Homo sapiens: one gene and its partners. The protein of the gene in region 3 purifies or fractionates together with the protein of the main gene of each other region. This does not show direct contact. Each region holds a gene or a part of one and is shown on either strand. Other genes may lie near its edges.

The links.
Region 1: the proteins of ASPHD2 (region 3) and XXYLT1 purify together in Homo sapiens (co-immunoprecipitation; one large-scale study listed by IntAct). This does not show direct contact.
Region 2: the proteins of ASPHD2 (region 3) and METTL9 purify together in Homo sapiens (co-immunoprecipitation; one large-scale study listed by IntAct). This does not show direct contact.

What each region holds. Positions count from the first base shown.
Region 1 is NC_000003.12:195,069,862-195,072,206, reverse strand, and holds part of XXYLT1 (xyloside xylosyltransferase 1), read left to right. Parts: intron 1-2,095; coding exon 2,096-2,345. UniProt on the Homo sapiens protein: Alpha-1,3-xylosyltransferase, which elongates the O-linked xylose-glucose disaccharide attached to EGF-like repeats in the extracellular domain of target proteins by catalyzing the addition of the second xylose.
Region 2 is NC_000016.10:21,620,060-21,623,716, forward strand, and holds part of METTL9 (protein-L-histidine N-pros-methyltransferase isoform 1 precursor), read left to right. Parts: intron 1-3,657. UniProt on the Homo sapiens protein: Protein-histidine N-methyltransferase that specifically catalyzes 1-methylhistidine (pros-methylhistidine) methylation of target proteins.
Region 3 is NC_000022.11:26,439,210-26,442,494, reverse strand, and holds part of ASPHD2 (aspartate beta-hydroxylase domain-containing protein 2), read right to left. Parts: intron 37-3,285; coding exon 1-36. UniProt on the Homo sapiens protein: May function as 2-oxoglutarate-dependent dioxygenase.

The DNA of each region.
Region 1 (2,345 bases), on a different chromosome or scaffold from region 3:
CCCTGCTTCCACCCGGTGTCGACAGCTGCACGGTCCACCCCACGCCTGCCTTTCCATCGTTCCTCATCAGCCCTGTGATCTTTCCTGTGGCCCTGCTGTGCTGGTGCCCTGTGAGGTCCTGTGGACACAAGAGACTGCACGGGCCACACCCCCAGCTGGGTGAGTCCTCTCCCTCCTGGGTACTCTGGACAGTAAAGAAAGATGGACACGTGGGCTCCGTGGAGCATGAGGTAGTCCAGGACCTCGGCGGCCACAGGTCCTGCCTCCCTGCTTCTCGTGCCCTCCCTCCCTTTGGGTCTCTGCTCCACCTCGGTAAACGCTTCGTTCCCACCCCTCGAAGGGTAAATCGAGCTCCTTGGTGGTAAAGCACCCACTGCCCCTAGTCAGAGGGTCCCTCCTCTCTGATGTCATGGTGCCCTGGTCTGCCTGGTAGAATTTTAGCTGCTTTATAACCTGGTCCTGAAATGAACCACTGGGAAGAAATAGGGTAAAATGAACACACAGCTGCCACACTGCATCCCAACCCTGTGTGACCCTATCACCGCAGACTTTTGTGGCAAGATGACAGCATCTCAGTTTGCTTGAGAAGCTTATTTTTGCCAAGGCTGTTACCACCAGGCAGGCACCAGAGCTCGGTTCCACTCACAGCAGAACACAAGCAGTGGCCCTGTGGATTCCCCTGTAAGAATGTCCGGAGGGAATGCTTCCCCCTCGCCAGGATCAGACTCTTGGCACTCTCTGTGATACGTGAGACCTTGAGGAAGGTTCCTCCGTTCCCAGAAGCGGAGCAATGTGCTGGTGCTGAGAAGTGGCCCCTCAGGGCCACCCTGGGCAGGGTCTCCGGTTTTATTCCCCCGTACCTTCTGCTTCATCACGCAGATCCTATCCTGGGTTTGGGTGGGGAAGTCTCTCTGCGGGGGCCGGTGGGGCAGCATCTCCAGGCTGGGAGGCAGAGCTGGTTCTGCCACGATGTGTCCTCCCCGTGAGGACCCACTCCCACGCCTGTCCCTGCCACAGTGGGCCTCCTGATGGTCCTCCTTCCTCCAGGTCACCGGCACGATTGCTGTGGCCCCTCCTCTGTGGGTGTGGGCTTGGACGCCTCTCCCCTCCACCTGCACACCCCTTGCAGCACACATGAGGCTTAGCTATTAAAGAGGCTGGAGGACAGTGCAGCGCTTTAACCCTGGCCCTCACAGGGAGGTGTCTAGGTCTTTCTTCTCCCCTCCAGATGGAAGCATTTGGGTAGAGGACCTAGAAGAGGCTAACACTCCCTGAACTATGAACCTAGATTGGTTTCTAAATCTGCTGAGAGAAAAATTGAACTTGAAGTGACATTCCTTCTAAAGTAGACATCATCCTACATGGCTCTTCTACAGCTGTCTTTCACCCTAACCCATGGTGTGCCCTGGGCTGTCGCAGGCCCCCAGCCCCTGCCCAGCCTTTCTGAAGTGCCAGGCTTGGGGCTCAATGAATGAGCCTTGTTCTAAAGCAGAAAACAGTTCTGTTCCAGTCAGGGTTCAGCTGCCTGCGTCTTGATGAGATCTCTGTTCAGGATTGTGTCCCCTGCTTCTCTCTCCCTTCTCCTTTTCAAGATCACAGGTGAAGACAAGGGGGTGGAAAGTTCTACCTAGATTGCTGCTATCTTAAGAATGTGGACTTTGGAGCCAGATTGTCTGGGTTTAGTCCCTGCGTCTGCTGCTTACTAGGTGTGTGACTTTGGGCAAATACCTTGACCTCTCTGTGCGTCCGTTTTCTTGGCTGTGAAATGATGTATCATCTCAGAGCACCCATCCCCTGGGGTTGTGTGGGGAGTAAGTAAGCCGGTCTAGTATGGCGCCTGGTACATCCTCAGTCAATAATATCAATGTTGGCTGTGGTGAGGACGTAGCAGAGGATGGTAGAAAGAATCTGAGGCTTGGGGTCCAGAGCCCTGGGTTCAGGTCCCAGCTCTGCCACTTGCTGGTGTAGTGATGCGGATTCTGCACCCCGGAATGTGGCAGTGTTTGCATGCAGGCTGGCTGTGAAGACCCAGGGCAGCAGGCCGGCAGGCTGGTTCCCCTGCACACCGGACTAACTCTGTCCTCTCTCTCCACAGGCACACATTCTGGCAGTTCCGCCATGAGAACCCCCAGACCCGGGTTGGGGGCCCGCCCCCCGAGGGGCTGCCGGGCTTCAACAGCGGGGTGATGTTGCTGAACCTGGAGGCCATGCGCCAGTCCCCGCTCTACAGCCGCCTGCTGGAGCCGGCGCAGGTGCAGCAGCTGGCCGACAAGTACCACTTCCGCGGCCACCTCGGGGACCAGGACTTCTTCACCATGATCGGCATGGAGCACCCCAAGCTCTTC
Region 2 (3,657 bases), on a different chromosome or scaffold from region 3:
TATATGGAAGGAAAGGAATAGGTATAGTCTCTGGTGTAATCAGGCACAGCTACGCCTTAGAAGTTGAGTTACAGCTTAGGGAGATCGACCTTCCTAGCTTGAACTGTTTAAGTCCTTATCACTGTCAGTGTTTAAATTGCTGTTAGGGTTGTTATAGGAAGAGACATAAGGAAGGTGTGAGTTTGAACTGAGTGATTTGAAAGCCCCTTAGCTTTAGCAAGCTGTCTCAGATAAGGTTCTGGTGGGTCTGCATGGTGATAATTGACATGTTTTCCTTCAGTTAGAGATTAATTCGGCATTTCAAAACTTAGAATGCTTTGACCTTTGTTATAACAGTGGCTTAAGTCAGGCTGAATTCCTAATCTGATTCCACCTCCCCCCCTTAAAAAAATCCATGCTTTGAAGTGGGTCGAAGAGGAAGGTGTTAAACCCATCTTCAGATGATTGACCGCCCCAGCCTTCTTTTGCTTTGATGCTAAGTGCCTAAATGGAATTTTCAGGGAAACTTCAGATGTTTGAAATTAGTAATATATCTGGAGTGTACATGGTATGTAAAGATATCTACCACATAAAAAATACTTGGTTTAATTTTTTCCCTAATATACAGCACATAAGCCAAAAATCTGCAGTTTGACCTGCATGGGAAATTCATACTGATTGGCATTCCTTTCATAATATTAGTATGAAGTGAAAACATTTTCACAAAAGTGGTAAATTTTGTGACTATTGGTGCAGTTTGAGGTTTTAATGAGGAAGTAGTATCTTTATTTCCTAAGATTAGAGGTCACCCAATCCAAGATGGCAAGGCAGACTTTCAGCTGAATTTTACATTTTTTTCTTCCTTTTGAGATTAGAGCTATTTTCTATTTCTCTTCAATATCTGGGCCATGAAAAACAGGCTTTTTATTAATTTATATATATATATTTTTAGAGACGGGTCTCTCTCTGTCACCTGGGCTAGAGCATGTGGCGTGATTATAGCTCACTGTAGCCTTGAACTTCCGGGCTCAAGTGATCCTCTCACCTCAGCCTCCTCAGTAGCTGGGACTACAGGTGCCTGCTACCATATCTGGCTAATTTGAGAGAGAGAGTGTGTGTGTGTGTGTGTGTGTGTGTTTTTGTGTGTTGTGTGTGTAGAGACAGGAGTTTCATTATGTTGACCAGGCCAGTCTTGAACTCCTGGCCTCAAACAGTCCTCCTGCCTTGGCTTCCCAGAGTGCTGAGATTACAGGCATGAGCAAAACACACCTTTTTAAATAAAGGTTCTGTAATTTTTTTTTTTTTTGAGACAAAGTCTCGCTCCATCACCAGGCTGGAGTGCAGTGGCACAATCTCAGCTCACTGCAACCTCTACCTCCCAGGTTCAAGTGATTAGCCTGCCTCAGCCTCCCAAGTAGCTGGGATTACAGGCGCATGCCGCCACACCCAGCTAAATTTTTTGTATTTTAGCAGAGATAAGGTTTCACTGTGTTGCCCAGGCTGGTCTCGAACTCCTGAACTCAGGCAATCCGCCCGCCTTGGCCTCCCAAAGTGCTGGGATTATAGGTGTGAGTCACTGCGCCCAGCCAAAGTTTCTGCATTTCAAAAATAGGTCAATAAACAGAAAATGGCCAGGTTTTTCCTTTGTATTCGCAAGTTGTCATTGTTTATGCCAGAAAACCCAATTGTAAAACTAAAGGATGTGGTTTTGATTTTTACAGCAAGACAGTTTTCTTTATATTGTTAGTGTTTCATTTTTTATTTAGGAATTATCAAAATACAGATTGCTTATTTCCTAAGTTTAGAGCTCTCCCAACCCGAGATGGCAAGGCATCTTTTTTTTTGGGAGACGGAATCTCTCCCTGTTGCCCAGGCTGGAGTGCAGTGGTGCCATCTCGGCTTACTGTGCAGCCTCCGCCTCAGCCTCCCGAGTAGCTGGGACTACAGGCGCATGCTGCCACGCCCAGCTAAGTTTTTGTATTTTAGTAGAGATGGGGTTTCACTGTGTTGCCCAGCTGGTCTTGAACTCCTGAGCTCAGGCAATCTGCCCGCTTTGGCCTCCCAAAGTGCTAGGATTATAGGTGTGAGCCACCATGCCTGGCCTTTTTTTTTTTTTTTTTTTTTGAGACAGGATCTTGCTTTGTCGTCCAGGCTGGAGTGCAGTGACACAATCATAGCTCACTGTAACCTCAAACTCTTGTGTTCAAGCCATCCTCCTGCCTCAGCTGCCCAAGTAGCTTAGCTAGGACTACAGGTGTGTGCCACCATCCTTGGCTATTTTTAATTTTTTATAGAGATGGGGTCTTGTTGTGTTGCCCCAGCTGGTCTCAAACTCCTAGGCTCAAGCGATCCTCCCAAAGTGCTGGAATTACAGATGTTAGCTACTGCACCTGACTGCTTTATCATTCTCTAAGGAGAAATATATTTTACATCCTTCTGGAAGTATTAACTCATTTTCTTGAAAATAATAATCACTTGAATAGATACCCTCATTCTAGGTTTAGAAATACTGTTTTAGAAAAAGGAAAATTCTGACAACTTGTTAGGATTCCTGGGCTAATACGCAGTTTTAGTGGGGCTAAGCAATTTGTCTTCATCAGTGGAACTGAGTGAGTTTACAAATAAAAATCACAAAACAGAAGTAAGAATGCACTTGAGCTTCTATAGGTATAGATTTAACTGTCTTAGTGTTAGTCACCTTTTTGTGTTATGAGCATATATTTCTCTTCCAAAATTACCAACACAGAGGCTACCTATCTGAAACTCATTCTGAGGTAGGTTTAGTGAGATTATTCTAGATTAGAACATGCTGATGATGTTTGGCTTCTGCTTCATTGCAGATAGACATCAGATTTTTTTTGTTGTTTTGTTTTTAAAAATCAAATATATAATTTGTGTTTTACAATTTGTGTCTTTAAATTGGCTGCTTAGCTAAGGCGTTAATATATACAAATAGTCCTTTCTTTATTCATTTCCATTTTTTAGAATGGGAATTGATGACATTTTTGTTCTGAAAGTAGTCTTCTTAGTAATGTTTGGAAACTCTTGGAATGAGCTAAATTGAATTTCCAAAATTGCTATTACAGTTGACTTAGTACAACAAAGTGATTTTAAAGCCTGAATGCTCTACTTATTTCAAACAGTATTTAGTGCAATGAAACACCTGCACCAGTAAGGAATCTGACTAGTCCCTGGAAGTTTGTTAGGCTGCTATTTGGAAGAGGCTTTAGTTTGACAAAAATATAGATTGAAAAGAAAATGCAGCTAAGTGCTTTGTGTTTTTAAAATTCTGCTATTCAGAAATGCTCTAAATATCATTATGCTAATGAGGTTTTCAAAACAACCCTCATTATACTTTTAGAATTTTCTGAGCTATCTTACTGTATCTGCTCAACATTACTAAAGACTTGTTTACCAAAGATCCTTTTTTTATGTTTCCTTTTTTACCTGTCTCTATCATAACATATCTCACCTACCACATTCTGATTGGTATAACCAAGCAGGAGTAAGTAATTTGTAAAATTGCCTAATTGTGTGGCTAACAAAGACTCTTGATATAAAAACTCCCCCTTTCTAGAGATAACAACATTGTAGAGGACTGAAAATGTTCTCTGTGTTCTGTGTACGTGTGTATGAAAGTGAGAGATTGAGGATCGAGAGTGGTTTTTTTTTAAACCA
Region 3 (3,285 bases):
CCACCACCAGCTCACAGCCATTTGGAGTTTTCAGACCTTGTAGGAAAACCAGAGAAAGGAGAGTGAAGGCAGGCAAGATTCAGGGAAGGCCAGGAGATAGGGGGTGATTTGCCTTACTGAGAGTTTTTGACTTCTAAAGCACCTGACCTGCCTCACACCTCTGGAGCCCGTGCTATGGTCTGAAGGCTTGTGGGCTTGTGTCCCTGCAAATTCCCATGTTGAAACCTGACCCCAAGGTGATGGTGTTAGGAGGTGGGGCCTTTGGAAAGTGATCAGATCATGAAGGTGGGGTCCTAATGGGAGCAGCATCCTTATAAAACAGGCCCAAGGGAGCTTCTTTACCTCCTTTTGCATCTTTTTTTCTTTTCCCTTTTTTTTTTTTTTTTTTTGAAATGGAGTCTCTCTCTGTTGCCCAGGCTGGAATGCAGTGGTGTGATCTCGGCTCACCGCAACCTCCACCTCCCAGGTTCAAATGATACTCCTACCTCAGCCTCCGGAGTAGCTGGGAGGCACTGGAGTAGCTTACAGGCACCCACCACCTCACCCGGCTAATTTTTTTGTTTGTTTTGTTTGAGACAGAGTCTCACTCTGTCGCCCAGGCTGGAGTGCAGTGGCGCGATCCTGGCTCACTGGAACCTCTGCCACCTGGGTTCAAGCGATTCTCCTGCCTCAGCCTCCCGAGTAGCTGGGATTACAGGCACCTGCCACTGTGCCAGGCTAATTTTTGTATTTTTAGTAGAGATGGGGTTTCACCATCTTGGCCAGGCGGGTCTTGAACTCCTGACCTCGTGTCCACCCGCCTCAGCCTCCCAAAGTGCTGGGATTACAGGCGTGAGCCACTGCACCTGGCCGAATTTTTGTATTTTTAATAGAAATGGGGTTCCACCATGTTGGCCAAGCTGATCTCGAACTCCTGACCTCAAGAGATTTGCTTGCCTCAGCCTCCCAAAGTGCTGGGATTACAGGCATGAGCCACAGCACCTGGCCTGACATCTTTTTTTTTTTTTTTTTTTTTTAGATACAAGGTCTTGTTCTGTTGCCCAGGCTGAAATGCAGTGGCTCCACCATAGTTCACTGCAGCCTTCACCTCCTAGGCTCTAGAGATGCTCCAGCCTCACCCTCTTGAGTAGCTGAGACTATAGGTGTGCACCATCATGCCCAGCTAATTTAAACTTTTTTTTGTAAAGATGGGGTCTTGCTATGTTGACCGGGCTGGTCTCGAACTCCTGGCCTCAAGCTATCCTCCCACCTTGGCCTCCCAAAGTGTTGGGATTACAGGCAAGAGCCACTGCTCCTGGCCACCTCCTTTCACCATGTGAAGTCACAGTGAGAAGGTGTCATTTATGAACAAGAAGCAGGCCTTCACCAGACGCCAAATCTGCTGGCACCTTGATCTTGGGCTTCCAGCCTCAGAACTGTGAGTTCTACATTTTTGTTGTTTATAAGCCACCATCTAGATCTTCACTGCACTCTTGGCAAAAATTCATTCCTTCATTGGCTTCATCTATTCTGGGTCATGGATTCCTTTTATGAAAGTCACAGACTGACATTTGCACTACACTCTGAAGCCTAACCAGGGGACCCCCAGAAATCCAGGGAGGTTGGGTTTAGAACCTTGCCTTACCCAGTAACTGTGTTTACTGTAGTCTCCCCTCTAGGACTATCTCAGTTGCGATTAAAAAATCAAAGGCTCACACAGTGTTCTCCTCCTTGGGTTCTAGCCTTTTAATCCGTTTTGAGGCTGGAGAATGGCGTGCTCTTCGTCTGCCCTCATTCTGGGAAACTGGAGGACACTTCTAAGGTAATGGCTTAGGTTCAAGAGGAAATAGACTGGCAGCTTTGTAAGAAGCCGTATGCTTGGCTGGGCACAGTGGCTCACACCTGTAATCCCAGCACTTTGGGAGGCTGAGGGGTGGGCAGATCGCGTGAGGCCAAGAGTTCGAGACCAGCCTGGTCTCAAACATGGTGAAACCCTCTCTCTACTAATTATCCAAAATGAGCCAGGCATGGTGGCAGACGCCTGTAATCCCAGCTACTCGGGAGGCTGAGGCATGAGAATTGCTTGAACCCAGGAGGCGAAGGTTGCAGTGAGCCGAGATTGCATCACCGCACTCCAGCCTGGGCGAATCGCACCACTGCACTCCAGCCTGGGCAACAGAGTGAGACTCTGTCTCAAAAATAAAAATAAAAAATAAAAAATAAGCCGTATGCTTCAACCGGCCAGTGGGGTCCGGTTGGAACACTGCCATGTGTGACCCTCAGTCGCCCTTTCCAACACAAGGGTCTGCAGAAACACTTGGCCCCCATCACTACCTTGATGTCCAGAAAAGAAGGGGCCACCGTGGCCATCTAATGATTTCAGAAGGGGTTGGGTCAGCCCAACAGCTCTCAGGAAGGCCCACCCAGGGGGAAGCAGAGTCCTGGAAGAGGAGCTGGGATGGGTGGTGGTCTCATCTGTCTTCAGTGACTCACTGTGACCACAATGACCCTGGGCCAGTTGGCATTCCCCTCTGATTTAATGTCCTTTAGCATAAAAATGAAATAGCTTTCCTTCCAGCAGCCAGAGTATTTTAATGTATTCTTTGAACCAGAAATAATGGTTCCAGGAAGTACGTTCACAGTAATAATTCAAATAAAGAGGCCACATGGAGGAGACAGAAGGACGGAGGACTTGGGGACAGACGACTGGTTGTGACTCTTATGTGCTGTGTGACTTTGGGCAAGTCACTCAGCCTCTCTGAGCCATACCCTCACCTGTAAAGAGGGGACATTAGCATACTGAACCTTCCAGGGCTGCTATGGGACTTCTATCCTTGTTACCAATAACTGAAGACCTACTGTGTCTTCCTACTCAGCTTTGTGCTAAATACACACTTAACAGGTATCACTTCACCCACTTTCCAGATGGGGTAACTAAGAAGTTAAATGACCTGCTAAAAAGTTACCATTTAGTGTTGCTGAGTCAGCCTGACTCCAAAGAACAGGCTGTTATAAAACTGGACATGATGATATAAATGCTAGTTGTTATACTATTAACAGAGGAATTAAAGTGATTGTGGAGTTTTCGATTTTTCTTTATTTATTATTATTTTTTTTGAGACAGAATCGTGCTCTGTCGCCCAGGCTGGAGTGCAGTGCCATGATCTCAGCTCACTGCAGCCTCTGCCTCTTGGGTTCAAGCAATTCTCCTGCCTCAGCCTCCCGAGTAGCTGGGATTACAAGTGTGCACTACCGTGCCCAGCTAATTTTTGTATTTTTAGTAGAGATGGGGCTTCACCATGTTGG